Homo sapiens: one gene and its partners. The protein of the gene in region 6 interacts with the protein of the main gene of each other region in a pairwise test. Each region holds a gene or a part of one and is shown on either strand. Other genes may lie near its edges. The genes, in order: MICOS10-NBL1, MVP, DISC1, SSX2, SS18L1, ZMIZ2 and ARSJ.

Region 1 (3,500 bases), on a different chromosome or scaffold from region 6:
ATCTATCAGATGAACTGATACTTAAAGAAAAACAATAATTTGCTTTCTTTTTCCATGACTATTCAATGGCCTCTTTTAGTATTTTTTTAAACATTAAAATGGCTTCAAACAATTTAACTAGACTTGATTATTGAATGAATACACAAAATCTGCTGGTTAACTTTAATTCTAAGGCAAGTCAGCTTCTAAGTCTTTTACTGTCCTACTTTTTTTCTTTCTTTTTTTTTTTGGAGACAGAGCCTTCTTGTTCTGTCGCCCAGGTTGGAGTGCAATGGCCTGATCTTGGCTCACTGCAACCTCACCTTCCCAGGTTCAAGTGATTCTCCTGCCTCAGCCTCCTGAGTAGCTGGGATTACAGGCATGCGCCACCACACTCAGCCAATTTTTATATTTTTAGTAGAGATGGGGTTTCACCATATTGGCCAGGCTGGTCTCAAACTCCTGACCTCAGGTGACCCACCCTCCTCAGCCTCCCAAAGCGCTGGGATTACAGGTGTGAGCCACCGTGCCCAGCCCTGGCCATACTTTCGTAACAAGGAAGAAGCAAGGCCGAATCCTTTCTTTTCATAAAGATGAATGCATGATAAACCAATAACTTTCATCTGTTAACTGAGCTGCATATAATTAGAGACCTATCTCAAGACATACTAGAAATTAAGAAACTACAAAATGTTATTCCCCTCTCTGCCTCTCCTATTTGTCAAAAGCAACACCATGCTCATTTATGTAGGCTTGGCACCACCTGACTCCTCCCACTCCTGAGCCTGCATTTCAAGTTCTGTAAATATAAACTCTGTACTAGCATCATTATATCTCTCTTTTCCACTCCTGCTGCTCCCCTCTTAGTTCATGCTTCCTCTCATTTGATCAGCTCATCTTTGGCAAGATTTTGCAATAATATACTAAGCTAGCTCCCTGCCCCCACATCCTAGCACTCCAGAGAGTTATTCATTCTCATCACATCAGTGATCTTTCTGAAATCAGAAATTCAACCACGTCACTTTTCAGCTTACCATTCAATGAATTTCTTCGAATGCTAAACATAGAATTGCCACACAACCAAGCAATTCCACTCCTAGGTATATATCCAAGAGAGATGAAAACATGTCCACATAAAAACTGGGGGGCTGAGCACCATGGCATGCACCTGTAATCCAAGCTACTCAGGAGGCTGAGGCAGGAGGATCACTTGAGCCCAGGAATTTGAGACCAGCCTGGGCAAAACAGACCCCATCTCAAAACAAAACAAAAATGTGTACACTTGATCACAGCAGCATTATTCATAAAATTTAAAAGCGTAAACAAACTAAATGTCCACCAACTGACAAATGGATAAACAAGATGTAGTACAAATACACCACACAACATTATTTGGTAACAAAAAAGAATGATGAACAGATAAATGCAACAGCATGGATGAATACTGAAAACACTACCTAAGTCAAAGAAGCCGATACAAAAGACTACATATTATATAACTCTTTATGTAAAATGTCCAGCATAGGAGACTCCACAGAGACAAAAAGTAAATTGGTGGTTGCCTGGGGCTAAGGTTGGGGTGAGAGTTTGGGAATAGGAGCAGCTGCATCCAGTGTTTCTTTTGGGGGAAGCTAAAAATATTCTAAAATTAGATTGTGATAATTGCACAATTTGGTGAAAAAACTAAAATTGTACACTTTAAATAGGAAAATGTATGCCATGAAATATATCTCAACAAAGTAGTTTAAAAAATCTCCACAACTTCCTACACCCTTCCACCTTTCCTGCCTCATCTTTTGTCCCTCCCCACATAAATCCTTTAACCCCAAAGGATAAAATCTCCTGCATTAACATGTGATAGCTACAAGAATGGGGTTCACCTTCCTACCCTTGCAGCTGTAGCCTGTGATCCTAAAGGAGGGATTCTGCCACCATGAGCTTCCATTGTAAAAATGGAGAAATATCTTACAAGGATATGAGATAATGATGTAAAATATAACATGCTCAGCACCGTGCCTGGCATGCGGTTAAGTGCTCAATAAGTGATGGTCATTCTCATCATTCCCAGAAGGAACCAAAGTATCCCTCTCCTTTGGGACACCTTCAAGGAGTGAAACACACTCCCCCACCTGGTCCACCTATTAAATATCTGCATATTTTCCAAAATGGGGGTCAAATGTCCCTCATCCTTTTCACATTCCTCAAGGCAGTAAGCCCCTCGAGGGTAGGGCCAGTGCCTATTCACCTGTGTGCCACCCCCTGCCAAGGCTTACCACAATACCTGGTACTAAATTGTTTCAAGAAGTACACATTAATGATTACTATTACATATATAAACATGAATATTGATTATCAGACCTACAATAGCCACGACCCACAATAAGACCCACCTACGACCCACAATAGCCAAGATCAGGGTAAATGTGTTAATCATTTTAACTCTTTTACCTCTACTCTTCAGCGACAGCCTCCAGTTTTTATTTATTTATTTGAGACCAAGTCTCACTCTGTTGCCCAGGCTGGAGTGCAGTGGCTGCATCTTAGCTCACTGCAACTTGCTACTCCCGGGTTCCAGCGATTCTCATGCCTCAGCTTCTCGAGTAGCTGGGACTACAGGTGCGTACCACCACACCTGGCTAATTTTTTGTATGTCTAGTAGAGACTGGGTTTCACCATTGTTGGCCAGGCTGGTCTCAAACTCCTGGCCTCAAGCGATCCACCCACCTCAGCCTCCCAAAGTGTTGGGACTATAGGCATGAGCCACCACACTCAGCCTCCAGTTAATAATATTTAGTAAGTACAGGCAACGTCCTAACTGCTCTAGAGATTATCTCATTTTATCCTCACTTGCAACTACCCTCTGGGGCAAGTACTATCATTTTATAGATAAGAAAACTGAGGCTGGGAGGTATTTACTGGTACATTTATTTTGAATGAAAAAAATGAGGAAAAGAAAAACAAAATGACTGTGTATGCCACTACAGTTCACTGAATTGAATACATTCTAGGGGCTCCTTGTAAATGTCCATGGCTTGCCTTTTTTCTTGCTACTAACGGAAATCACTGTTGTGCTTGACACACCTGGCTTGCCAGGACAGTCTTTTCCAGGAAACTCTCCAGCTTTGGGACCTCTCCCTCCACCATGACATCTCCTCCCTGCCTTCATCCCAGCCAGCCCTCTGATTCATTCTCATCAATGATTTTTCTGAAATCAAAAATTCAACCATGTCACTCTTCAGCTAACCATTCAATGAATTTCTTCAAATGCTAAAATACAGAGTTGCCATACAACCTGACTTCTATTAGAATAAACTAGAATTCTAAACCAATACATGGATTAGTAAGACTAGATATTCCTTACTCTGGTCTCACATTGGAGCAAAACAAAGAGAAAAGGGACACAGCCAATTTTAAAGCTATCCAAGTCACACTAGGGATTCCCAGGACCTCCGTATGAATCCAGGAAGTGCCAGAATCAGATTTTCCTCAAAGCGTCCTCTGGCAAATCCATAGTCTGAGGA
Region 2 (4,340 bases), on a different chromosome or scaffold from region 6:
AATCCTAGCCACTGGACTACCTGAGGCATACAGATATTCTTTGGCTATGGGCTGACATTTGAATACAGCTGGGGCCTCAGGATTCTCTGAAATAAAGGGCTGCCTCCCTCTGGAGGAGCCAGGCAGCTCCTCAGAGCAGCTGCCCATTGCGTGCTGGACAAGGCCATGTCACCACCTCCATGGCTCCCCAGTTTCCCAGCTTGCTGTATCTCTCCACCGTAAGAGACTGGGAGCACCTTGATCTGAAGCTCTTTGCAGTGCCGGTGGCAGTGTAGGGGGAAGTAGTTGATGGGAGTGAGGGAAAGGAATTGGCAAGGAACCCTGGGCCTCTGTGGCTCACTGCATCAAGCAGTTCTTGGCAAAGGTAAGGTCAGGATGGGCTGTGTCGTCTTGGGTGGGGTGAAGACAGGGAGCAGTGGGCATGCAGATGCGGACAGGGAAGGGTGCAGTGGCCTGGCTGGAGGAGGTAGGGCCGTATCCCACCCAGAGTCTGTCACCAGATTCATGCCTGCCCCACCCCAGGCTCCCCAGGTTCATCCTGTGTCGTCTCCCCCACCTACCAGTCATCTTCTTGTGAGCCCTGGGCTTAGGAGTCACCATGGCAACTGAAGAGTTCATCATCCGCATCCCCCCATACCACTATATCCATGTGCTGGACCAGAACAGCAACGTGTCCCGTGTGGAGGTCGGGCCAAAGACCTACATCCGGCAGGACAATGAGAGGTGGGTGTGGGGGCTGGGCTGTGGGGGATCCTTGGGGATGTGGGGGCCTGTTTGGCTGGCATGATGGTCCTTATCCTCCTCCCTCTTCCCAAGCAGGAGTGGCCCTCGCTTGGGCGATAGAGAGGTTTCTCTCTCATTTGGTGTCCTCTTTGGTAGTGGAGACCTGGTCCCAGGTCCTCACACCTCTTCTCATCTTCCTGCAGGGTACTGTTTGCCCCCATGCGCATGGTGACCGTCCCCCCACGTCACTACTGCACAGTGGCCAACCCTGTGTCTCGGGATGCCCAGGGCTTGGTGCTGTTTGATGTCACAGGGCAAGTTCGGCTTCGCCACGCTGACCTCGAGATCCGGCTGGCCCAGGACCCCTTCCCCCTGTACCCAGGGGAGGTGCTGGAAAAGGTACCTGGTTTCCTCACTCCCTATGCCCCACCCTACCTGTCCTCCACCTGCCTTGGGCTCTATACTGCTGCCTTCTTCTTCTTTTTTTCTTTTCTTTTTTGAGGCAGAGTTTCACTCTTGTCGCCCAGGCTGGAGTGCAGTGGCATAATCTCGGCTCACTGGAAGCTCCACCTGGGTTCAAGTGATTTTCCTGCCTCAGCTTCCTCAGTAGCTGGGATTACAGGCACCCGCCACCACGCCCGGCTAATTTTTGTATTTTTAGTAGAGACAGGGTTTCACCATGTTGGCCAGTCTGATCTCAAACTCCCGACCCCAGGTGATCCACCTGCCTCGGCCTCCCAAAGTGCTGGGATTACAGGCATGAGCCACTGTTCCCGGCCTGTACCGAGTTCTAAAGGGAAAACAAACCAGGGCAGTGGGAGGGGTGGGGAGAGACACTTGCTGGCTCTCACCAAGGGTGGAATTGACTCACTGTACCTCCACTCACCTCCAGCCACCCCCATCCTCCACACATGCCCCAAACACACCTGCCTCTTTTCTGAGAACTGTTGGCCCATCTCACCTTCCCAGGCTCCAGAGCCTACCAGAAGTGCCCAGCCAGTCTGGCATTAAATGACATGTGCCAAGGTTAAGCAGTTCATTCACCCGGTGCCAGACACTGGTGGGCAGTGCCAAAGCAGCAGTGACAAGCCCAGGCCCCAGGCTGTGCCTGTTCTAGGAGAAGCCATCACAGGCCTGAACCTACAGCCAGGCTCTTGTCCCCGTTGGCCTCAGGCCTGGGCCTGAGCAGGTGGGTGTCCCACCTTCATTCCTTTACCTGTTCTTCCACCTTTACCTTCTGGCCATTTAATGGTTTTGGGTTTTTTGTTTGTTTGTTTGTTTGTTTTTAATAGAGACGGGGTTTCACCGTGTTAGCCAGGATGGTCTTGATCTCCTGACCTCATGATCCGCCCGCCTCGGCCTCCCAAAGTGCTGGGATTACAGGCATGAGCCACCGTGTCCAGCCCCATTTAATGGTTTTCTTACTGACTTTACTAACCAGTGCTGCTTGATCCTGAAAGCATAATAGCAGAACATGGGGAACTTTTAGAGACATTCATGTCCACTTAGGTGCAGACAGTTTGGGGGAAGAAGTGTGTGTGTAGAGAGAAAATGAAGAATGATTAAGACAATAACCCTTAAGGAATCCAAGTGAAAAGTATATAGGGATTCTTGTACCTTTTTTTTTTTTTTTTTTTTTTTGAGATGGAGTCTCACTCTGTTGCCCAGGCTGGAGTACAGTGGCATAATCTCGGCTAACTGGAAGCTCTGCCTCCCAGGTTCACGCAATTCTCCTGCCTCAGCCTCCCGAGTAGCTGGGACTACAGGCGCCCACCACCACACCCGGCTAACTTTTTGTGTTTTTAGTAGAGATGGGGTTTCACCGTGTTAGCCAGGGTGGTCTCGATCTCCTGACGTCATGATCCACCTGCCTTGGCCTCCCAAAGTGCTGGGATTACAGGCGTGAGCCACCGCGCCTGGCCTTTTTTTTTTTTTTTTTTTCTGGATCTCCCCCTGTTGCCTAGACGAGAGTGCAGTGGGGTGATCATAGCTCACTGCAGCCTCAACCTCCTGGGCTCAAACGATCCTTCCACCTCATTCTCCCAAAATGCTGGGATTGCAGGTGTGAGCCACCAAGCCCTGCCTAAGCTTTCATTTTAAATATGTTCAGCCGGGCACAGTGGCTCACGCCTGTAATCCCAGCACTTTGGGAGGCCAAGGTAGGCAGATCACTTGAGGTCAGGAGTTTGAGACCAGGCTGGCCAACATGGCGAAAACCCATCTCTACTAAACATACAACAATTAGCCAGGCGTGGTGGCATGCGCCTGTAATCCCAGCTACTTGGGAGGCTGAGGCATGAGAATTACTTGAACCTGGGAGGCGGAGATTGCAGTGAGCTGAGATTGCGCCACTGCGCTCCAGCCTGGGTGACAGAGCAAGACTCTGTCTCAAAAAAAAAAAAAAAAATTAGCTGGGGGTGGTGACACACCTGTAATCCCAGCCACTCAGGAGGCTGAGACAGAAGGATCACATGAGCCTGGGAGATTGAGACTGTTGTGAGCCATGGTTGTACCACTGCAGTCCAGCCTGGATGACATAGGAAGACCCCATCTCCAAAAATAAAAAAAAGCCAGCTCTTCCTTTGAGCCCCAGTTTCAGTTCAAAGGGCCTTCTCTAACTTCTCCTTCATCTGAACTCCTGAGACAGGGTCTTGCTCTGCTGCCCAGGCTGAAGTGCAGTGGTGCAGTCATAGCTCACTGAAGCCTTAACCTCCTGGGCTCAAGTGATCCTCCCACCTCAGCCTCCCGAGTAGCTGGGACTACAGGTGTGCGCCGCCACCATGCCTGGCTACACTTTTTTTTTTTTTTTTTTTTTTTAGAGATGGGATCTTGCTATGTTGCCCAGGCTGGTTCTTGAATGTCTGAGGTCAAGCAATCCTCCTACCTCAGTCTCCCAAAGTTCTGGGATGACAGGTGTGAGCCACTGTGCCCGGCCTCCACCCCAGTCTTATTTCAGGACATACAGAGATGGATGTTGTGGACCCGCCTCCAGAGCATCAGGCTTGGCCCTGGGGTCACAGCACTGATGGTTCTGTGTCTCCACCTTCTTCCCCACTAGGACATCACACCCCTGCAGGTGGTTCTGCCCAACACTGCCCTCCATCTAAAGGCGCTGCTTGATTTTGAGGATAAAGATGGAGACAAGGTGGTGGCAGGAGATGAGTGGCTTTTCGAGGGACCTGGTAAGTTCTGTCTCCATAGGGCTCCCTGCCTTCCTGTCATAGCCCTGATACCTTCTGACCATCACCTTCCCTCCCCAGGCACGTACATCCCCCGGAAGGAAGTGGAGGTCGTGGAGATCATTCAGGCCACCATCATCAGGCAGAACCAGGCTCTGCGGCTCAGGGCCCGCAAGGAGTGCTGGGACCGGGACGGCAAGGAGAGGGTGACAGGTGGGGTCACCAAGGGGCGATGATGGTGGGTGGGCAGGAGGGGTCCCCACTGCAGGGGAAGCAGGGGAAGGTTGAGGAAAGCCTCCTGTAGCCCCAGAGAGGCGCTTTCCTGGTATCTTTTGAAAGCTGTTGAGGGCCACCCACTGCTCTTCCTTCCCCACCCCCGCTTCATGCTGTTTCCACTTGGGCTGGAAAATGTGACCATGACCATGCGGATGTGGCTTT
Region 3 (4,340 bases), on a different chromosome or scaffold from region 6:
CTTAGCAAGTGATTAATGCTATGAAAAAGGAAAAGGGAGAACCACGTTATGGGGATCAGGGATGCTGGTAGAGGGTAGAGGTTGCAATTTGAAATCTGATCTCCTTGAGATGGTGACATTTACACAAAGATTTAAAAGTGGTAAGGGAGTGAACCACGAGGCTGTCTGGGAGAAAAATATTCCCACAGAGGGAAGAGCCAGTACAAAGGCTCAGGCAGAAGTGTTTCTGGTAAGAAAGCAAGAAGTGAAAGTGAAATGAAAAGCAAGAGGGAGCAAGAATGCCACTGGATCTGGGGCAGATTGATGTAAGGGAAAACTGTAGAGAATGAGGTCACACAGGTAATGAGGACTGTGTCAAGAAGAGACATGAAGACCATTTAAAAGTTCTGATTTTACTCTGAAGTTCATGGGGCGCCACTGGAGAGTTTGGGGCAGAGGAGCACATGATCTGACTTATGTTTTAAACAGTTTCACTCTGGCTGCTGTTAGTAAGAGCAGAAGAAGGGAGGCCAGGTAAGAGGCTATGGGAACATTCAGGAAGGAGATGACAGGAGCTTGGATGATAGTGAGGATGGTGGCAATGGTGAAGATGGTGAGATGTGATCTGATTCCGGTTATATTCAGAAGACCGCTGGTTAAATATAGAGCCAACAGGATTTGCTAATACATCACAGGTGGGGTCTGAGGAAAATGCACCAGGATGATGCCAAGGTTTGTTTTGTTTTTTGTTTTTTGGGTTTTTTTTTCTGACCCACTGGAAGAATGGAGTACTTATTGCACCAGGTTATAGCCATCATTTTCCTTTGTTTGGTTTTATCTGTGCACATCATTCAACCTTGAGCATCTGGGGGGCAAGAACTATTTTGCATCCATGTATAGGATGCTAGTACTTACACTGACTTGATTTTCCACTGCTTTGGGCACATGGAAAGAGTACAAGTGCCTCTCTCCTTGTTCTGCTGAACAGGGTATGAGTGGCAGTGATGGGGTTACCTCTACGCTGAAGCATTTGATCGCTCTTGTAGGACTCCCTAACATTCTCTTCCTCAAGTCTGTGACTAAGGGGATCATATGTTCAGATGGTGCAGGCTGGGTTCTTGCCCCCCAAAAATCTCTGTGGAACATGAAGCATACGCAAAAAACACAATTTTGTTGTGTTGAGCCTCTAACGTAGTGCCTGTTACTAGCCTGTCCTAATACAATCTCCAAAGCCTAGGATAAGGCATTGTACTCGTTGTCATTGATAAATGCTTTCTGAATGAATGAAAGAATGAATGAATAATCATATTAACCCCTTTGTCTTTGAATTGTTCTATATTACAACTGCAAAGTTTACCAGTAACTTAGTCCTATATATTAGGGACAGAAGAAAGGCTGTGTGAATGGTTTGAGGGCCACATAAAGCTATAGCATTACCATCGCCACACCCAAATGATGGTATCATTAAACATTTATTAGAACAGAAGCTGAAGAAATGCAGGAAACAAGGTCAGGAAAAAAATTCATTTACAGCCAAAGCCCACCCCACGATGCCCACCTCGTCCAGTGATCTCTATAAGGCCCTGAATGGACTGCCCTGAGATATGTCTGAATACCCGTCTTTGCTGGAGGCACAGCCCCAGTGGCCATGTCTTGCACTGTGCCACAACCCTGCCTGTGGAACGTCCTATAATACTCTACAGGCAGAGTCCTTCATTTTTCACCAGTTTCCATGGCCTTAGGTGGAGCCTACCTTGCAGGGCCCACTCCACTTCCCCTCCTCTGCATGCCTGGTCACCAACTACCTTTATTACCATCTTCTCAGTCCCATGCAACCCCTGGAAATCTCGCTAAGCAGCGATTTCTAAACAGCATAAAATATTCACAGTCGATTCTCCTTATTCACAGTACTGTAGTTATGTTCTATAAAGTTTCTGTGAATACTGAATTAGGGAATAATGAAGCATTGCTCCTAAGAGAAATACAGGGTAGGTTCCTGTGAACCCCTGGTCACAACACCTTCCTCCATCGGTCAACACATGACCTTGTTCTATGTGTGTTTCTGTTTAAAAACATCTTATTTAATATGTATTATTGATCCATAAGCATTGTACTCTGGCCAACAGCACTCTAACTCATGCCTGAATAAAGTTTCTGGAGCACCTGTATCTTCTCCATCAGGCCCATCACAGCCTTCTCATGCTTAGGAGCACTAGATGACATTAGCACTATGCTTAGGGAGCTTTTGCAATGGTTAACTCACCAATAAAGAGCACAAAAATGTAAAAAAAGATGGCATTAAATAGACCACAAAAAGGATACTAGTTTGTAGTATGAGAGAGAAGGTAGAATGTCATCTGGTCTGAACTTGTTTGACCTAAGTAGAAAGCGTGTACATCAGGTGACCCAAATATTTTGCCACTCTGTGCAGGTTCAAAATTACCACCAGGCATGGTGGCTCATGCCTGTAATCCCAGTACCTTGGAGGCTGAGGCAGGAGGATCATTTGAGGCCAAGAGTTCAAGACCAGTTTGGGCAACGTGGCAAGACCCTCATCTCTACCCAAAAAAAAAAAAAAAAAAAAATTAGCCAGGCATGGTGGCATGCGCCTGTAGTCCCAGCCACTAGGGAGGCTGAGGCAAGAGAATCGCTTGAGCCCAGGAGTTCAAGGTTGCAGTGAGTTATGATCACACCACTGCACCCCAGCCTGGAAGACAGAGACCCCGTCTCTTAAAAAATAAAATAAAAATGAAAAATGACCATAAAAGTGCTGTGAGTACTGATTTTGGAGTTAACAACAAATTTTAGCAAGTAGACGAATTCACACATATAGAATCCACAAACACTGAGGATCAACCATCTTTTAGAAGAAGCTGAAACTTAAATTCCTGAGATTCTCATTTTTACTTAAGTAGAAGCGAGAGGAGGTTAAGGAATTAAAATATAATATCAATAAGGCCCCCAAACACTAGAAATCCTACTCTTTCAAAGGATCTTTTTGGAGATCCTTCACCGACCTTCTGCCCTGTCCCGAAGGCCTCAGCCGCAACCCCAGTGAGCAGTCTGGGGCCTCTGTGTAAGCACCATGGGAAAACAAGTCCCTGACCAGCCCACCTCATCACAGACAATTCCCACTGTCAAGAGGTTCTTCCTCCTATTGAGGCAAACTCTGCCTTCCTGTAAGTCCTATGCCCTGGACTGTGTTATTTCTGTCATTCCCACTACTCTGTTAATTCCGCTGTCACACAACAGATACTCAAGTACAGCCTAGCGTTACTTAATGACAGGGATGCATTCTGAGAAATGCATTATTAGGTGACTTCATCATTGTGTGAACATCGTAGAGTGTGCTTACACAAATCTGGATGGTGTAGCCCATTACACACCTAGGCTAGATGGAATAGTCTATTGCTCCTTGGCTACAAACCTGTGCAGCATGTGACTGTACTGAATACTGCAGACAAGTGTCACACAATGGTAAGGTATTGTTGTATCTAAACATATCTGAACATAGAAAGGGTACAACAAAAACACAGTACGATAATCTCACAGGACCACTGTCACATCATATATGTGATCCGTCATTGGCCAAAATGTCATTATGCAGTACATGAGTGTAATTGAAGAGAGTGTCATGTTTTTCCCTGCCCAGCTGTGGGACTGCCATAGACAACAATACTTACACTAAAGAAAAAGTGTGTCCAGATTCTACCATTTGAGATAAGATAGGAATTTAATTTGAGCTATGGACAGAAGGGAGAGCTTCATTTGCTTTTGACTCAAACTCTCTAAATTGGAGCTATTTCTCTAATGATGACAATGGTTAATTTCTGGGTACTTGCTAGATGCCAGGCCCTGTCTGAAGCACTTTGCACATATGATCACATTTAGTTTAATTAACTGGAGAAGAGAAACACCGCAGGAAGGTAGACCCTCTTGCAAAACCCAGGTGAAAGATAACAAGGATCTGAGCCAGGGCAGCGGCCATGGTGATGAGAGACAGATTAGCAGTAGGACTGAGAGGGCTTGGAGGCCAGCCAGATGTGGAACAAGGGAGAGGGAGGTGTGGAAGATGGTTGTGGTTTCTGGCCTAAGAAACTGGATAGATTCTATGCATTCAAATCAACCAATATTGGAGGCCCTTCAGAACGGGTTTCGGGGAAAGACAAGGGGCACTGGTTTAGGCAATGACTAACTGGAAGACTCCACACATCACCCAGAATACAAGCCTGCATCTGTGCTCTGACCTCACTCCCTCTCTGCATAATAAATCAGAGGGCTGGGCTGAGGTCCCTGAGGGCTGAAACAGGGCAAACAGGGACAGGGCTAGAAACATCAGACTATAGATAAAGAACAGATGG
Region 4 (4,844 bases), on a different chromosome or scaffold from region 6:
TCAAAAACAAAAACAAACAAAACACACTATCAACAAGTCACAGCTGAAGCTGTCTGTGCCGCACTCAGTAATCCCTGCCCGCCCTCCCTCCCTCCTCCACTTACAGCCAGTCACCTTAATTTGATGGCTTTTTATTCACATTCATGTTTGTATACATTTACCATTTACTTATTATCCATAAAATATATATTCTTCTTTTGCATGTTTTAAAATTTTATATGAATGGCCTCTGTAGTTAACTTTCTGCATGCAATTTTTTTTTTTTTTTTCACTCAGCCCTGATGTGTATGAGGGAACAAATGCCTGAGGATCTTTCTCAGGTAGCTGAGCTGAAAAGCAGCTGGGCTTGAGGAGACCCTTTCCAGCCCCTTCCCATCTACTCACCCTGATTCCCACGGTTAGGGTCATTATCCAAATCATTCCCCTGGAAGTCTTCGGCCCGTTTATTACACATGAAAGGTGGGAGGGTGGCCTTGAAACCTAGAAAGAAGCAAAATGTTTATTCCTTAAGAGACAAGCTTGGGCCTGGTATGGTGGCTCATGTCTGTAGTACCAACACTTTGGGAGGCTAAGGCTGGAGAATTGCTTGAGGCCAGGAATTCAAGGCTGCAGTAAGCTATGATTGCACTACTGCCCTCTAGCCTAGGTGACAGACTGAGACTGACTCAAAAAAAAAAAAAAAAAAGGAAGAGACAAGCCGAGAGAAGGTAGGGTGGGTGTGTGTGGGGTGGGGGTAGGGGGGTTGCCGGGATGCCACAGAGACAGTTGGGCTCATCAGAACAGAAGCCTAAGGGAGAGAAACGTGCAGGATCCAGGTATAAGCTCCACTGTGGCCAGTCCCTGCCCTCAGCCCTGACAGGATACAGAAGAGCAGAACACCCAGAAGCTGCCTTGCGATTTTTCCCTGCACAAAAGGAAAATGTGAGGTACTTTCTGCAGCCTAAGAAGTAGCCAAAGCAGGAAAAGGGATGCTCATGTGTCCCCAGACTTGTCTGTTCCCAGAACTTTCTGTTACCTAGTTTAGTCATAGCCTCATACTTTCTCTTCATATACACATAGAAGATTTTCTCCGAGGCTTTCATCTTTTCCCACTCTTCCTTAGAGAAGTATTTGGCAATATCATCGAAGGCCTACAAAAAAAAAAAAAAGGAATTATGGCAGGGACTCAGCTAGGCATGTCTGCCATTCAGCTGGAGCCGCTTCCTGTGTGCTAGATCTGGGAACTGGGGATGATAATCCTTCCTGGTTGATGCCATGGCTAACTGACAGAACACGAGGGACCTTCCCTAGCTTCACCCCTGCCACACAGTAGGGCTTTAATGCTGCTGGCTGGCTCTCTTCCCACCTTCCAGAATGGACTGAGAGTCACCAGATGTAGTGCAAGGTCACAGACTTGTCTCCAGGGATGCTAGGTGATGACAGAGCGAGGGTGGGAGGCTCCCAAGGGTCCAGATCTCCCCCGAGACCCTGCTCCTTGTCTCCAGTATCTCTGTCCTCCCCTCCTCAGAAACCGGGTCACCCCACACTGTCCCCTGGGCCACTACTCTGCTCCCTCCAGGTCACCTCACCTTTTGGATCTTCTCTGGTATTTGAGCACCAACCGTGGGTCTCCTTGCAAAGGCGTCGTCTCCGTTCATGGCACCGGGAGCAGTCTGACCTGCAAGAGAAATAGCCTGAGTCTTTCCAGCCACAGCAGCTTTGATCCTGTGGAGGGAGAAGTCAGTGAAGGCCGGCCACCCTCAGTCACCTGGAATCAGCTGCTGCATTTCTCCATCCGGGGCTTATCTGTCCCTGAGTAAGGATATGGGGAGAAATCAGATGAAAACAGGGAACCAGGGGTCTCTGGGAGAAGTATTGATAGGGAATGACAGGTTTCCTATGGGCAAAGCAGCCTTGAGTCTTTGGGAGGGGGTTGGCTAATGTTGTTAGTAGTTTCCCTGGAGCTAGGCTTACCCTGAAAGATGTACGGACCCTTTTTGGGGAGGCAGGGACATGACTGTGTAATTTTATTCAGTGGGGGCATGCTGACACCCCCACTCAATAAATAAAGGAAGGGAAGTTAGTCCCAGAGATAACATGGTCTCTTTGGCGATGGATCTGATCAGGCAGAGGGATGGGGGGTTCTGTTCTGTTGAAGAGAAATGAGCATCGCTAATATGAACGTGTTCAGAGGCTATTACTCGGTGATTTGTAAATTATTAGAAGGAAGAGAGCTAGAATTTCTGAGACTACAAGAGCCCGCCATCACTTAGAGAGAATGTGGGGCATTTCAAGATGCAGCAATCAGCCAGGCGCCGTGGCTCACGCCTGTAATCCCAGCACTTTGGGAGGCCGAGGCGTGCAGGCCGCTTGAGCCCAGGAGGTCGAGACCCGGCTGGGAAACACAGCAAAACCCCCGTCTACAAAATACACAAAAAGTTAGCTGGGGTTGGTGGAGCAGGCCTGTACCATCCCAGCACTTTGGAAGGCCAAGGTGGGCGGATCGCCTTAGCCCAGGAGCTTGAGACCAGGCTCGCAAACGTAGCAAAACCATCTCTACTAAAAAAAACAAACAAAATTTAGCAGAAGCGGGGTGGTGCGCGCCTGTAGCCCCAAGGCCTAGGCGAGAGGCTCACTTGAGCCCAGGAGGAAAGATTTGAGTGAGCTTTTTTGGTTTTTGTTTTTTCAGACAGGGTCTCGCTCTGTTGCCCAGTCGGGAGTGCACTGGCGTGATCATGGCTCACTGCAACCTCCGCCTCTTAGGTTCAGGCGATCCACCAGCTGTGGCTTCCAAAAGTGCAGGGATTACAAGTGTAAGCCACCACGCCCGGCCCAAATTTCTTAAGTTACTACAGAGTTCCTAGGAAAAATCCCGTACCTGAAAAAGTTAGAAACTGACAGGAAAGATTCGAGATGGCGGCCTGCCTCATATACACTCCTTATTAAAACTAGATAGCAAATGCACCGCGGAGGAGGGGAGGGGTAGGAAGAATGGAAAAAGAAAATCGGCGTATGCTTACTCTGATTTTGGAAGAATCCAAAGAGAAAATCAGACCGTGCGTACTCTGAGTATGGAAGAATCGAAAGAGAGAGAAAGTCAGAGCATGCGTACTCTGAACTTAAAGTAGCCAATCCCAGGGGATGCTTTAGGCGGGAAAATTAGAGTCTCCACCCCCACTTTGAGAAGGTTCCGTCCCTGGAGCCGGGACTGATAGAAGCCACATCCGCTTCGCTTGTTCCGCCTACTGTTCTGACTTCTAATTGGCCAGATGGAGTTCACTAACTGCCCTGATTGGTCCATCATCCTTGGGCAGTGACATAGCAGAATAATGTCTCCTCCTCCAGCCACACTTTGTTGCCACTGCGAAAAAGTGGGTGGTCCTCAGGCGCCGTCAGATTTTGAACTCTCTGAAGACCGTTCCTGGATCTTGGGTTAAAAATCTGGATTCTAGTCTGAACTGTGGGAAGAAAAAAATAGTCAATCTGTGATTTTTCTACTTGAAAGACACGATGTTTTCCAAACTAGCACATTTGCGGAGGTTTGCTATACTTAGTCGTGGCTTTCATTCTTCAGTGGCTTCTATGTCTGTTGCCACTGAAAAAACAGTCCAAGGCCCCGCAACCTCTGCTTACATTTTTGAAAGGGAATCTTAAGTATGGTGCGCACAATTACCATCCTTTACCTGTAGCCCTGAAGAGAGGAAAATGTATTTACTTATGGGATGTGATTGTGGTATTGGTTACATCTGCCTTGGCCAATCCTCCAGCCTCCGTCTTGGGACTACAGGCGCGAACCACCCTACCCCCACTAATATTTTTTATTTTTTGATTTTTTAATAGAGAAGGTTTCGCTGTGTTGGCCAGGCTGGTCTTGACGTCGTGGGCTCAAGCGATCCTCCCACCTCGGCCTCGGGACTACAGGCATTCACCACCCAGCCCACGCTTTTTTTTTTTTTTTTTTTTAAGTAGAAACCAGGTTTTGCTATGTTGGCCAGGCTGGTCTCATCGTCCTGGGCTCAAGGGATCCTTCCGCCATGGCCTCGAGACGACAGGCATGCACCACCCTGCCCACGCTTTTTTTTTTTTTTTTTTTTTTAGTAGAAACCGTGTTTCCCTATGTTGGCCAGGCCGGCATCAAGCTCCTGGACTCAAGGGATCCTCCCATCTCAGGACTACAGCCATGCACCACCCTGCCCAAGCTATTTTTTGTTTTGTTTTGTTTCGTTTTAGTGGAAACCGGGTTTCGATATGTTGCCCAGGCTGGCCTCAACCTCTCAGGCTCAGATGATGCTTCCACCTCGGCCTCAGAACTATAGGCGTGTGCCATTCTACCCCGCTCATTTTTATTTATTTATTTATTTATTTATTTTTTAGGAGAGGCAGGCTTTCGCTTTGTTGGCCAGGCTGGTATCAAACTCCTGGGCTCAAGCAATGCTCCCACCTTGGCCTCAAAACTACAGGAGTGAGCCACCCCGCCCACGCTATTTTTCTGTTGTTCTTGTTGTTAGCAGAAATGGGGTTTCGCTATGTTGGCCAGGCTGGCCTCGACCTCCTAGGCTCAAGCAATCCTCCCGCCTCGGCCTCGGGACTATGGGCTCACACCACCCCGCCCCCACTAATATTTTTAATTTTTCTATTAGAGACAGTTTCGCTATGTTGTCCAGGCTGGGCTCTACCTCTGGGACTCAAGTGATTCTCCCGCCTCGGCCTTGGGACTACAGGCATGCACCACCCTGCCTTTTGCTATGTTTCCCAGGTTGGTCTTGACCTCCTGGGCTCACTCAATGATTTGAACCCGGGAAGTGGAGGTTGCATTGAGCTGAGATCACACCACTGCACTCCAGCTTGGGCGACAGAGCAAGACT
Region 5 (4,340 bases), on a different chromosome or scaffold from region 6:
CTGGCCCTGTGGGACCACCTTATGTCTCTGTAGCGAGACATAAGCTCTAAAAGTGCAGGGTTCGTGTCGCGGCCACACACCAAGCACTCAGCAGAGACCGGACGCGTACCCAGTACGTGACAAACACTGGCAGAGTGAATGAATGTGAGAACCAGGCGTGCAGATCTAACGGTGAGCTTAGGGTATGAAAAGCCAGCTGGATGACTGAGGTGAGCGTATACACAGAGGCAATTCTGCAAAACCTTACAGGCTCAGAGACTTAACGTTCTGGAAGGAACCCTGGAAGCCAGTTAGTTCCAGCTCATTATTCCTCATGGCCATAAGAGAAATCTTCATTATGTCTCGACAGGCGCGGCGGATGGGCACATCTGGAAACATCCAGAAAGCTTGCCTGTTCATAGCCGTAGGGCCGCTGCTGCTGGGCAGACGGCGCTGTCTGCGGTGCTCGGTAGCTTCCGTACTGCTGGCCTTGGCCTTGCTGGTAGCCGGGGTACTGTGACGGGGCTCCCTGGGCAGACCCTGAGAAGACACCAGGAACCGTGAGGCCGGCCAAAACGGACACCTCTTTCTTTTTTTTTCTTAACTTAAAAATTTTTTTTAAAACTTCCTCTTCTCCTTGAAAAATTCCCGTCTCAATGCATCAGCCTTTTGTCAATCTCCAGAACACCTGGCACCTGCACGTGGCTCCACGTTAACTCTGTACAGCGAGAGCACCACGTAACCGACTCACCAGCCCCTCCAGTCCTGTGAGGTCCCAGGACTGTGCCCCAGGCCCCCCACCAGCATGGCGAGGGCTGATGGGCTCTCTCCATCACCCCAGAACTGCTGCTACCTGAAGGCAGGACAGCCCTCCAGAACCCGCTGGCCCCAGTCACACTGGCTGCTGTAACTTGTCACTGAACTACCACGGGAGCTGCTGAAAACCTGCAGGCAGGTGAGACAGAGACATCGTCTCTAGGAAGGCTAAGTCAAAGGCTCCGGCAAGAACTGATAGAGGCCAATTTTTTTTTTTTTTTTTAGGCAGGGTGTCACTCTGTCACCCAAGCCAGGCTGGAGTGCAGTGGCGTGATCTTGGCTCACCGCAACCTCCACCTCCCAGGCTCAAGTGATTCTCCTGCCTCAGCCTCCCAAGTAGCTGGGACCACAGGAGTGTGCCACCATGCCTGGCTAATTTTTGTATTTTTTGTAGAGATGGTCTCACTATGTCATCCAGGCTGGTCTCGAACTCCTGGGCTCAAGCAATCCTCCTGCCTCAGCCTCCCAAAGTGCTGGGATTATAGACATGAGCCACCACACTGAGCCTCAAGTAATTTATTTTTTTATTTTTTGAGGAGTCGTCTCACTCTATCGCCTAGGCTGAAGTGTAGTGGTGTGATCTCGGCTCACTGCGACCTCTACCTCCTGGTTCAAGCAATTCTCCTGTCTCATCTCCTGAGTAGCTGGGACTATAGGCCCCCACCACCATGCCCAGCTAATTTTTGTATTTTTAGTAGAGACGAGGTTTCACCATATTGGTCAGGCTGGTCTTGAACCCCTGACCTCAGGTCATCCGCCCACCTCAGCCTCCCAAAGTGCTGGGATTATAGGCGTGAGCCACCACGCCTGGCCTCAAGTAATTTTTATACTATTTAATTAGTAATGGCTGTAAAGGGCTGAATAAGCACAGCAGAATCAGGCACGTGCCTCATAAGAAACCACGTGTGTGGAGCTCATCCTGAGAACTGAGATCTTGCTCCAACAAAAGACCTGGGGCAGCCCACACCTTATTTTTCAGAAGTTTCCTGGGTGATTGTAAGCTGCAGTGAAGGCTGAGACCCACAGGCTTTGACCTGCTCTGTCAAAGAGGTTGAAGCTGGGCCTGAGGCGTGCAGGTGATGGATACACGGGACACTGGCTCCCGTCACAGGCCACGTGGGCAATGAATTTATGTTTAAGTTAAAATAAGATGTTTCAGGTCTACGTGCATGGATGTTTCCAACTTTTCTGGAAACCTAAAGGTATTCAAAATAAGTTTATTACACATCTGCCTGAGCACCAGGGTCACCGGGCACGTACCCACATGTGGCAGGGGCAGGGGTGGGCGCTGGGGGGCCCCGAGGAGCGTGCTCGCCTCTTACCGTAGCCCTGCTGCTGCCCAGGGTAGCTCTGCTGGCTGGGGTACTGAGCACGTACCCATGTGTGGCAGGGGCAGGGGTGGGCGCTGGGGGGCCCCGAGGACCGTGCTCGCCTCTTACCGTAGCCCTGCTGCTGCCCGGGGTAGCTCTGCTGGCTGGGGTACTGCTGCTGGGAGTACGTCTGCTGCTGCGCGGCACCCTGCTGGTACCCGGCCTGCTGCTGGCTGTACTGGGAGTTTCCTGGAGGGAGGAGGAGACACAGAAATGACTTTCCCCACCTGGGCTAAGGGGGCTCATTCTGTGGCCCACTCACGACACGGTAACTTTGGAATCCCAAAACCAAATCCATTGCTTCGGCATGTTTATTTTTTCACAACCATTCAAATACTATACTACACCTTTATCTTATAGAAATACAAATGGAAAGCTAAGAAACGAAATGGTTAATATGACAACTAAGACAGAGATGAACGCCAGCGTCGCGGGTCAAATGTGCTCCCCAGAGAGATGCTGATGTCCTAACTCCAAGTACCTGTGAATGGAACCTTATTTGGACATAGGGTCTTTGCAGATATAATTTTTTTTTTTTTTTTCAGAGACAGGGCCTCGCTCTGGGACCCAGGCTGGAGTGCAGTGGTGCAATGAGGGCACACTGCAGCCTCCATCTCCCTGGCTCAAGTGTTCCTCTCACTTCAGCCTCCCAAGTAGCTAGGACTACAGTGTGTGCCAGCGTGCCCAGATAATTTTTTTTTTTTTTTGAGATGGAGTTTCGCTCTGTTGCCCAGGCTGGAGTGCAGTGGCGAGATCTCAGCTCAGTGCAAGCTCCGCCCCACCCGGGTTCACGCCATTCTCCTGCCTCAGCCTCCCGAGTAGCTGGGACTACAGGTGCCCGCCACAACGCCAGGCTAATTTTTTGTATTTTTAGTAGAGATGAAGTTTCACCATGTTAGCCAGGATGGTCTCGATCTCCTGACCTTGTGATCCGTTCACCTTGGCCTCCTAAAGTGCTAGGATTACAGGCGTGAGCCACGGTGCCCGACCATGCCCAGGTAATTTTAAATCTTTTGTAGAGACAGGGTCTCTCTATGTTGCCCAGGCTGGTCTCGAACTCTTGGCCTCAAGCAATCCTGCTGCCCCTGCCTTCCAAAGTGCTGGGATTACAGGCGTAAGCCACCATGCTCTGCGCAAAGAATCCATTTTCTACTTTACTTTTCTGGTTGGAAATAACTTTCCTTTTTTAGAAGCTGTAAAATTTAAGTATTTTAAAACTGCAATCTAGTATTTTTTTTAAATAACAGCTTTATTGAGATAATGCACACTGGAATGGCTTAAAAACCTATCAGGGTAATTCAATCTGTAGTTAGGTGGGATGACAAAACTAACACACGCTCTTATTCCAGGCTGAACTCCTCCTAAGGCGAGAGCTTCGGAAAAACTTACTTGAGCCTTTCCAGTTATTCTCTATCCAGGAAGTATCTTGAGTCTTGAACTTCCACGCCTTCCTCTAAATCCAGGGCCGGTTCCAGCAACAGCTGGCAAACGAGCTGTCACCGTCACGGGAGAAGACTTAAGGTCACTATCCTTTCTCCTGCCCCCATGAAAGCCATCTGAGACATGGGGGAGTGGGTTTTCAAGGGTGTCAGGCTTTTGGGGGTCAGCCTGCATATTCTCATGTTTTATAGCCCACTTTATTCTTTACATAATAAAGGAGCCAGTTTGTGGCCGGGTGCGGTGGCTCACGCCTGTAATCCCAGCACTTTGGGAGGCCGAGGCGGGTGGATCACAAGGTCAGGAGATCGAGATCATCCTGGCTAACATGGTGAAACCCCGTCTCTACTAAAAATACAAAAAATTTAGCCCGGCATGGTGGCGGGAGCCTGTAGTCCCAGCTACTCGGGAGGCTGAGGCAGGAGAATGGTGTGAACCCAGGAGGAGGAGGTTGCAGTGAGCCGAGATCGCATCACTGCACTCCAGCCTGGGCGATAGAGTGAGACTCCATCTCAAAAAAACATAAACAAAAAAAAAAAATAAAGGAGCCAGTTTGTAGGAAACGGGCCAGCTTTGCCCTGGCACCCAGCAGGTATGCAACAACTGTGAGAGTGCCAGCTCAGAACACCCAGCCCCAGCACACAGGGACCAGGCCTGGCTCTCACACCCCAGTGGGTGCTCAGGCGATCTAGTGGGAACTGGCAGCAGCCGCCCTATCCCCAAAGAAAGGGGGCTGCT
Region 6 (4,340 bases):
GGGGGTGGTCCCGGGGTGAACTCAGCAAGGGTTGGGGTGCTGGGCGTGGTGGGTGGGAAGGACTCAGGGAAAGTTCCAGGCCCCAGGAAGCTGGAACCTGTGAGAGGAGAGTCGGGGCCTGGGTGAGGGCTGGGGAAGGCCACCGCTGGCAGAGGAGCCAGGAGGGAGGCTGGCTGTGGCATGGGTGGGACTTGCAGTGCTCACCCACAAACAACAGCGGGTTTTGCAGAAGTCGCTATTTGGAAAAGGGCATTTCTTCTCATTGCTGCCAAGGGAATTGGCCTTGGGACATTCCTAGGAGTGAAGGTCTCGGAGGTTATAGGAATGGGAGCAGCCACAAACAAACGCACCACGCGTGTGAGGTGGGTCCCAGAGGGGGGCCCCAGATGGGGCCAGTCCTGTGAGGTGTTCCAGCCAGGAGCCCCTTAATCCAAACGGGGAAGGAAGGGTGGAGGCCCCACTGTCTGTTTCCTGGGACCATAGCTGAGACTGTGCCTTCACCGCCACGTCCCTGAGATGGGAGGGGCTGGAGGTGCCCCGCGGCATGTTTTGTGTGGCAACACTGATAACCTAGGTGTGTGACCTGCATAGCCACATTCTTGCAGGTGAGGAGACTGATCTGGGGAGAGGAGCCATATGCCCAGGGTCATCTGAGGTTCAAGGCTAGCCTGCTGTACTTACCCTGGCCAGGGTAGTCGCTGGGGGCAGGGACTGAGGGGGGCTGCAGGGGGGCAAAGGGGGCAGCGCCGGGGCCCAGGGCGGCGATCATCTCCATCACGCTGGGCATGAGCACGTGGGCGGGGCTCACGGTGCGGCAGCGCTTCAGTGCTGGCCCATCCGGCTCCTCCTTGATGTGCATGTCAGGCTTCACGGGCACTGGCTTCCAGCTGCACGTGGGGTCGATGGTGATCTCCTCATAGTCAGAGCTGGGCAGGGACAGGTGGGGAATGGTTACCTCCTGGCCTGCTGCTGGCCCGGCACCCACTGCCCCTCCCAGCCCTGGGCTGTTTCCAGGCAGGTTCCCCCACTCAAATGCTTGCTTCCACCCAGCACCTTCCACATCGAGCAGGACGCTGGGCCCAGCACCAACACTCAGGTAGGACACACACGCTGTCTCTGGCCTGGAATCCAGCCTGCTCCATGCCGGAAAAAGGCTGGAAGGCTGCACTTGGCAAGGGACATCCCCCGACATGTCCTGGGGCTGCCCTCCAGTGGCCACAGATGCAGGGATCACAGGAAGAGGATGCTTACTTCTGAATGTAAATCAGGATGCCCAGCATGTACTGGTCCACCTCCAGGCCCTCCAGCAAAGCTGTCTTGCTGTGGGGAAAAAAAGGGACACAGCTCAGAGACCTTGCACAACCCTGTCCTGGGCACAGGCCCTGTCATTTCTCAGCCCTGTCAGCTGTGACCCTGCATGAGGCAATCCTGTGTGAGGCAACTGAACAAGGTAACTCTGTGTGAGCTGACCCTATGTGAGGTGACAGTACAAGGTGACCCTGTGTGACTGACCCTTGTGTGAGGTGAAAATACGAGGTGATCCTGTGCATGTGGTGACCCTGTGTGAAGTGACTCTGCACAAGGTGACTGCATGAGATGACCCTGCATAAGGCCACCCTATACGAGCTCTCTGCGCTGAGCTGCACAACCCCAGTCCATGCAGTGACTCCTCCCAGCAGGCTCGTATCTTTGATGATGCTGTTGGAGGTTTCACCCATGAAAGCCTCTAAAAGCACCAGCCCCTCCTCCATCACACGCTGCATCTGAGACTCACTTGCACACAGGACACCTCCAAGTCCCCCGCTCACAGTTGAGCTGCAGGTACGACTCCAGGTCAAAGCACTGTAGAGAGATGGGAAGAAAGTCAGTTTCTCATTGTGGGTAGCACAGGGAAAATCTGGTCACTCTGCAATCCCTTTTCAGGAATGTGTGACTTATTTACATGCATAACTGAGATACTGCATGTACCAGGTTTTCACTGCAACATCATTCTAATGGATCAAGGTTGGGAACAGCCCAAACAGCTCTCACTGAGACTGGAATGCCATGTGGCCAAAGCAAGCATCGGGCAGCTGTGCTGACTGGGACCCACTTCCAGAACATGGTATTTTTGTTTTGTTTCGAGACAAGAGTCTCGCTCTGTCACCCAGGCTGGAATGCAGTGGCTCGATCTCAGCTCATTGCAACCTCCGCCTCCCAGGTTCAAGCGATTCTCCTACCTCAGCCTCGTAAGTGGCTGGGATTACAGGCACACACCACCATGCCCCAGCTAATTTTTGTAATTTTAGTAGAGACAGGGTTTCACCATGCTGGCCAGGCTGGTCTCGAACTCCTTACCTCGATCTGCCCACCTCAGCCTCCCAAAGTGCTGGGATTACAGGTGTGAGCCACCGCGCCCAGCCTCAGAACATGGTGTTAAAAGAAGAAAAACGACAGCACAGAGCAGTTTGTGCAATAGGGACCACTATGTAACCACAGAGACAGTGGGCTGTGCATCTACTTGTTCATACCCAGAGTATTTCTGCAAAGACAGATGCTAACGATGGTCACCCTTGGGGGTAGGGCAGGAAGACTGGACCCTGCAATCTTATGCCTTTCAAAACTTGAACCCATGAATGAAGCAGGCAGTAAAAAAGTTAGTAAAATGACAATTATATTTGGAAGAAAAAATAGCCTAGTCTTGGGGGAGCCAGGCCCACCTGCCTCCTTGGCGTGGGAGGCCTGTCCTGTCAGCCTGACAGCCAAGGCACTCGGAGTTCACGTCTGTCCAGAGAATGACACTGATGTATCGACTCAAGATATTTTAGCAGCAGCAAATTCCGGCAAGACTCTGCAGTAACCACCTACCTGTATGTGGCGACAGTCATGACCTCGGGCAGGGAGCTGGATCCTGCGGAAGGTGATGGGGCACTTCAGGGACACCTTGATAGCTGTCTGCTCCACCCCGTCCTCTCCGTTGGGCCCAGGGGTGCCAGGGATGGTGCCGCTGCTGAAGTTCCGCTTTACTGACATCAACAAGGTAAAGGACTTGAGTAAAGGGTCCCCAAGATGGGGAGGTGTGAATGGGGATGCCAACGAGGCAGGGACCCAGTCACTGACCCACTGACAGCTCTGAGGGGCCACCTGGAACTAACCACTGCCCCTACTGCAGAGCCACCTGTCCAAGGAGAAGGCCTGGTGTGACACGAGGAGGTGCCCACAAGGAGGATTGTTGGGCTTGGGCCACACAGAATGGGGATGGCTGCCTGGCAGCTGAGGGGCAGGAGCCACTCACTCTTGGTGATGCAGTGCTCAGCAGGCAGGAGGCGCTTTTTGAGGAGGCCCTGCAGCACCGAGCGGACGGATGGGCGGTGCACTAGCTGCAGCACGAAGAGGTGGGACTGCAATACAACGGGAGGATGTCATCAGGGGGACTTGGGCCAGGGGCCACCCTGGCCAGGTAAAGGGTGTGCTGGGGGTTGTGTGTCAGGGGCTGCCAGGTGGGGGAGGGACAAGGCTGAGGGCAGGGTGAGCTGGGGGTGGGGATTCAGCCAACAAAACTCCTCAGTGGCTTGGCCCCATCCAGCTGCCTTTCCTGGCCTCAGCGCCCTGCCCACGCTTGTATCCATCTCTACAGCTGTGCTGGGCATCCTGCCGGTCTAACCATTGCCTAGTCACCACTTCTCCATGAAGAGAATCACCTCAAGTCCCCTTGAACGTTCCCCCTGCTCGCACATCCACAGTCACAGATGCTGGGTCTGTGTTGACATCTGCCACATCCCAGACAATGTGGTGTGTGGCCAACCCGTCCCCAAGGCCCTCATGCCCAGGCTGACTAGTGCACTCATAAGCCATGTCTTTCTTCTCTAGCCCAAGGGTGACCCTGATGCTTGCTAGAACCGGTAATGCTTGATCAGCCGGGGACTCCGAGCTCCATGAGCTTTCTGCATATCCTGGTTTCTCTTACATAATTAATGTGAGCATCAAATCTAGTCAATTTACTCTAACTGGAAAACAGCTAGGGTATATTACTGGATCGCTTTCTTAAAGGGCAAGGATGACAGATTAAAATAGAAATACAAGGCAGTAACAAAGAGAAGCAACGCATTTTTCTGAAATAATAAAGCCCCCACGTCCTGCTCTCCACCCTGCAAGGGGGCACACATGCTACAGCAGGCGGTGGACAGCAAAACAGCAGACGGCGGCATGATCTGATGGTGCTGCAGGCCGGCCCGCCCATGTCCTGGCTCCGCTCCCACTGCGCCGCTGGGCCAGGCCCCGCCCACACCCCGCCCCACCCCACGGCACCGCTGGGCCAGGCCCCACCACACCCCGCCCCACGCCACAGCACCGCCCCCTCG
Region 7 (4,340 bases), on a different chromosome or scaffold from region 6:
TCCCAATATTCACAGAGCCTGGAGCAGGTATGGGTGCTCTCTTAGTTTCTCACTGGCACTTCTAGACAATTTTGGCTCTTGTCTCCCTTTAAAAGCTCAATGCCTTTGAAAAGTAAGGCAACAGACAATAGACTCATTATCTTTGCTGTTAGAGTCCTTCATCCAATTTCAGGCCTTTCCGGAACCTGATCCCTCATTCACAGATGATCCCAGCACTGGCTCGCTGTCGTCTTTGCTACTATTTCTCTTTTTATTCTCAGTGATTTCTCAATGGATATCCATGGGAGTGATTATTCAACACTCTGTCCTTGAAATACTTTGCCTTCCTTACTTCCAAAGATGTTTTACCCCATCTGACCTTAGCACTCATTACCATATAATTTTCAAAACCTGTACTACATAACTAAATTTTGATCCCCTGCATATACTTTCCCAATCACTATTATCTATGTTTTCAACTTTCCAAGTTTACTATGGTGTTCTCATTTCAATGACATCCAGACAGTTAATTTATTGACCTCAGCACTTTTTAAGAGAACATAAGCCCCCATAGTATTCCCCCTTTCTTTGCAAAGGGTCCATGATCCACCATGCTAATTATTTGGCAAATCTCAAAAACTAGTTAATTCCACCTCTTCAACTGTACTTCTGCACACAAGCACCAAGCAGGGTGGGAGAAAAACAAACAAAAAATGCCTGGTGTCTGTTAAAATTTATGACCACAAATCTCAAGTGGGCTCTCGTTACATCCCAGTATTTTTACTGCATTTCTTTACCCAATTCACTTTCTTACTCTCCTAGCAGATATTTTGTATCTCTCGCCCTCTCTCGTTAAACCTTCAGATCTTCCTTCTCAGCTAATTACCTGTAGGATAATTCAGAAGAGAATTACTTCAGAGTCCCAAAACCAAATCTTCCAAGCTATTTGCATCTGTACATCTATACTCTCTCTTCTTTCCTAGGAAAATTAATGAACTGGTAAAAAATATCCAAGGCAATTTTGAAGAACAAGCAGGAGGTTTTACATTCAAGATATTAATATTTATTATAAACCTATAGTAGTTAAGAGAACATAGCATTGACACAACAAATCGATAGCGAAAACAATGAGAATTGGAATGGAAAAGTGCAGAAACAGATCAAACATGTGCATTCATCTGATTTATGAAAAGGTGATGCTGCAGTGCAATGGAGACGGTATGGTCTTTTTAATAAACAGTGTGGGTCAAATGGGTATACACATGGAAAAAATAATCTTGAACTCTCATTTACACCATACTAAAAACTAATTTCAGATGAATCGTAATCTAAATACAAAAACAAAACAATAAAACTCTTAGGGATAAAAGACCATGGTCATGATCTTGGGGTAGGGAGAATCTCTTAAATAGGACATAAAAAGAAAAAGATTATAACATGGATTACAAGAAAATTAAAACCTCCCGTTAATAAAAAAAATGAAAAATCGCTAAAAAAAACCAAACACACCAAAACCACTAAAAAACATACACTAAAAAACCAAAACACTGTTGAGGAGAGTGAAGAAGCAAGCCACAGTAGGGGAAAAGAGACTTGCAATACAAATATCTAACAAAGGAATAGAATATATAACTACCACAAATTAATAAGGCAGAAACAATCATCTAAAGAGAAATTAGGCAAAATACTTGAATAAATACTTCTTTAAAGGGGATATAAAATGGGTCCATAAAAATGTGAAAAGATGCTCAACTTTATTAGTTGTCAGGAAAATGCAAATTTAAACCATAATGATGTAGCAGTGCATAATGACCAGAGTGGCTAAAATGAAAAAAGATAATACTAAATGTTGACAAAGATGTGAAACAAGTAGAACATTCCATACAGTTACTGGTGAGAGTACAAACTGGTAGAATCACTTTGGGAAACTTGAGCAGTATCTACCAAAACTGAACACAGACATCCCTTTAACCCAGGATTTCCACTTCTTGATAGATATCTAAGAGAAATGCATAACCTATGTTCACAAAAAACATATACAAGTATTTTTATGGTAGCACTGTTTATAATAACCCAACTATGAAAACAACCCAAATGTCTATTAACAGTAGAATGGGTAAATAAATTGTAATATGCTTATGCAAAGGAATACTATTCAATGATAGTGAGTATGTACAGGCAACAACATGGAAAAATTTTACAAACATAATGCTAAAAGAAACCAGACATAGAAGAGTACCCTCTCTGTAATTCCATTTGTATAAAGTTCAAAACCAGGCAAAATTAATTTAAGGTATGAGAAACTGGGAGAGTGATTATCCATGGTGAGGGATACCAGTTGGGTAGGGGGTTGTTTTAAGCACAGTGAATTTATCAAATATCCTATTAGAAATAAACATTATTTGAGTTTCCTTCACATTTGTTAACAGTGATCATCATGGTATTTCAAGTGGGATAAATGAGTAACAAAATAGTAAAAACACAAAATTACTATCAAAGATACAAATTCAATTCAGATTGTCAACCTTTCCTCCTCTAAAGTCTGCATAAAACATGTCTAGGTTTTGCAAAACTTATAATTCACTTTATGAAGCCTTCACTATATTCTCTTTTAAGAAAAAAATGATATTTTTAATCCATATCTTTATTTGCAAAACTGTAAAAAAAGAAGTGAGTAAATTACTTTGAAATAAATCAAACACAGGCAGTCACTTTCCCAATCAACCTTTTATCTCATCAGGACAACTGTGAACACCTAGAATGCTGTTTCTCAAAGCCCAGTGCATAGAATCCCTACATCACTACCCCTCTTAGAATCTGTTGCCACATCAATATAAAATGGGCATGACAAGAGCAACTATCTAAAGTTGTTGCAAGGATTAAATGAGACAATGCATATAAAATTCATTACCCCAGAACACAGTGACTGCTCAGCAGACGCTAACATTTAATACTAACAGTCTTAATTTATTTTTGATGATGTCATCATCACAATAACCTGACATGCTCATTAAATCACTATTGATTTCTAGACTCAACCCCGGACCTACCAAAGCTGAAGGGCCCTGAAATCTGCATTTTAACTAGCATTTGGACTGATTCTTTTTGCACACTACAACTTGAGAACTACTATCCAGAGATTAGGGCTCACTTCTTGTTTCTTCTTCATGGCTCCAATGCAGGGGTCTGTACACATGAACGCTTATTGACAGGCTGACTGATAATCAATATTGCCAGACTAGTATGATGTAAATTATTAAGGGAATCTGCAATTTGTTACAGATTCGTGTAGTAAAAGAAAATGGATTTTTAATTTTTGACTCCAGAAAAATATAAAGGGAGGGCTGTTTTGTTAATAGAATCAAAAGTAACTTCAGCTTCAATTATGTAAACTCTTTGTCATGTGAAGATATTTGAATCATGTCACACTTCACATAACCCATTTTATTTCCCTTAAAATAGTTTAGTTCATTTCAGTTTTTTTTTATGGCTTCCTTTTTTAATTTAGAAGATCCACAAGGCATAGACATGTGTTCATAGAGAGAACAAATGACCATATTCTCTGGGACCTGCATTATTAACTCATTTATGCCTAGTGTTCCATTATTGGAATTCTAAGCATGTGGGAGTAATTTATATACTACTGCCCAAGATCATTGCCAGGGGCTGATTGCAAAAATTCAAAACATTGCAACCTCAGGCATAAATGGGTTAATAATGAGTCCAGAACTGGGCTTCCATAACTGCTTTATTTCTTACATCTGTGTTCATTTAAATGAAGGTTCCAGCAATTTGTCTAAAAGGAGAAATTGCAAGTGAAAAAGTATTCAAATGTTTAATTCAAATAGAAATTTAAATCAAATCACAGTAGCTATTTGTACTTTTTGTCTATAAAAGTTATACAACCTGTTGCACTAAATAAAAATTTTTAATGAGAAAAGAAATCTCATCAGATGTTTGATTGCATTGAAATTACAGAGACGTTAATCTTTCACCAAAGAGAAAAATTAGGAAATATTTCCAGCTTAGTTTCTCTTTCATTTTATTAAGTAAACATAATGGTTAAAAGATAAAACCTACATATTGTTTCAGTGCAAGATAATGTTTAAGAACAAATTTTCTTGTTTGGTGAAAAGCCTTGAACATATGCTTTATTGTGAAAAATAAATTCATATAGTTCAGTTACTTATTTTCAACCACAGTTGGCTATCTGTGTAAATCTAAATTCTATAAGTTAGTTGAAGAGGTCCAGTGAGGCTTTGTGAGACATTTATTTCATGAGCCATATATAAGGGTGTTTGGAATCAGACATGAAGAACTTGACCTCTAGGCCACCAGATGGACTAGTTATTTTCCAGCCA

What was found.
Region 1: the proteins of ZMIZ2 (region 6) and MICOS10-NBL1 interact in binary tests that used the Homo sapiens proteins (3 or more experiments, as listed by UniProt).
Region 2: the proteins of ZMIZ2 (region 6) and MVP interact in a two-hybrid assay, tested with the Homo sapiens proteins (one large-scale study listed by BioGRID).
Region 3: the proteins of ZMIZ2 (region 6) and DISC1 interact in a two-hybrid assay, tested with the Homo sapiens proteins (one large-scale study listed by IntAct).
Region 4: the proteins of ZMIZ2 (region 6) and SSX2 interact in binary tests that used the Homo sapiens proteins (3 or more experiments, as listed by UniProt).
Region 5: the proteins of ZMIZ2 (region 6) and SS18L1 interact in binary tests that used the Homo sapiens proteins (3 or more experiments, as listed by UniProt).
Region 7: the proteins of ZMIZ2 (region 6) and ARSJ interact in a two-hybrid assay, tested with the Homo sapiens proteins (one large-scale study listed by BioGRID).

Annotation. Positions count from the first base shown.
Region 1 is NC_000001.11:19,603,479-19,606,978, reverse strand, and holds part of MICOS10-NBL1 (neuroblastoma suppressor of tumorigenicity 1 isoform a precursor), read right to left. Parts: intron 1-3,500. UniProt on the Homo sapiens protein: Possible candidate as a tumor suppressor gene of neuroblastoma. May play an important role in preventing cells from entering the final stage (G1/S) of the transformation process.
Region 2 is NC_000016.10:29,829,952-29,834,291, forward strand, and holds part of MVP (major vault protein), read left to right. Parts: intron 1-522; exon of another isoform or gene 523-563; 5' UTR 564-598; coding exon 599-723; intron 724-926; coding exon 927-1,122; intron 1,123-3,781; coding exon 3,782-3,905; intron 3,906-3,983; coding exon 3,984-4,115; intron 4,116-4,340. UniProt on the Homo sapiens protein: Required for normal vault structure. Vaults are multi-subunit structures that may act as scaffolds for proteins involved in signal transduction. Vaults may also play a role in nucleo-cytoplasmic transport.
Region 3 is NC_000001.11:231,695,831-231,700,170, reverse strand, and holds part of DISC1 (disrupted in schizophrenia 1 protein), read right to left. Parts: intron 1-4,340. UniProt on the Homo sapiens protein: Involved in the regulation of multiple aspects of embryonic and adult neurogenesis. Required for neural progenitor proliferation in the ventrical/subventrical zone during embryonic brain development and in the adult dentate gyrus of the hippocampus.
Region 4 is NC_000023.11:52,704,113-52,708,956, forward strand, and holds the start of SSX2 (protein SSX2), read right to left. Parts: upstream 3,067-4,844; 5' UTR 3,000-3,066; intron 1,658-2,999; 5' UTR 1,638-1,657; coding exon 1,569-1,637; intron 1,131-1,568; coding exon 1,016-1,130; intron 481-1,015; coding exon 385-480; intron 1-384.
Region 5 is NC_000020.11:62,170,696-62,175,035, reverse strand, and holds part of SS18L1 (calcium-responsive transactivator), read right to left. Parts: intron 2,355-4,340; coding exon 2,235-2,354; intron 520-2,234; coding exon 392-519; coding exon of another isoform or gene 305-391; exon of another isoform or gene 1-304. UniProt on the Homo sapiens protein: Transcriptional activator which is required for calcium-dependent dendritic growth and branching in cortical neurons. Recruits CREB-binding protein (CREBBP) to nuclear bodies.
Region 6 is NC_000007.14:44,761,921-44,766,260, reverse strand, and holds part of ZMIZ2 (zinc finger MIZ domain-containing protein 2), read right to left. Parts: intron 3,381-4,340; coding exon 3,275-3,380; intron 3,006-3,274; coding exon 2,848-3,005; intron 1,843-2,847; coding exon 1,775-1,842; intron 1,321-1,774; coding exon 1,252-1,320; intron 927-1,251; coding exon 682-926; intron 295-681; coding exon of another isoform or gene 260-294; exon of another isoform or gene 237-259; intron 98-236; coding exon 1-97. UniProt on the Homo sapiens protein: Increases ligand-dependent transcriptional activity of AR and other nuclear hormone receptors.
Region 7 is NC_000004.12:113,972,847-113,977,186, forward strand, and holds part of ARSJ (arylsulfatase J isoform 1 precursor), read right to left. Parts: intron 959-4,340; exon of another isoform or gene 866-958; intron 1-865.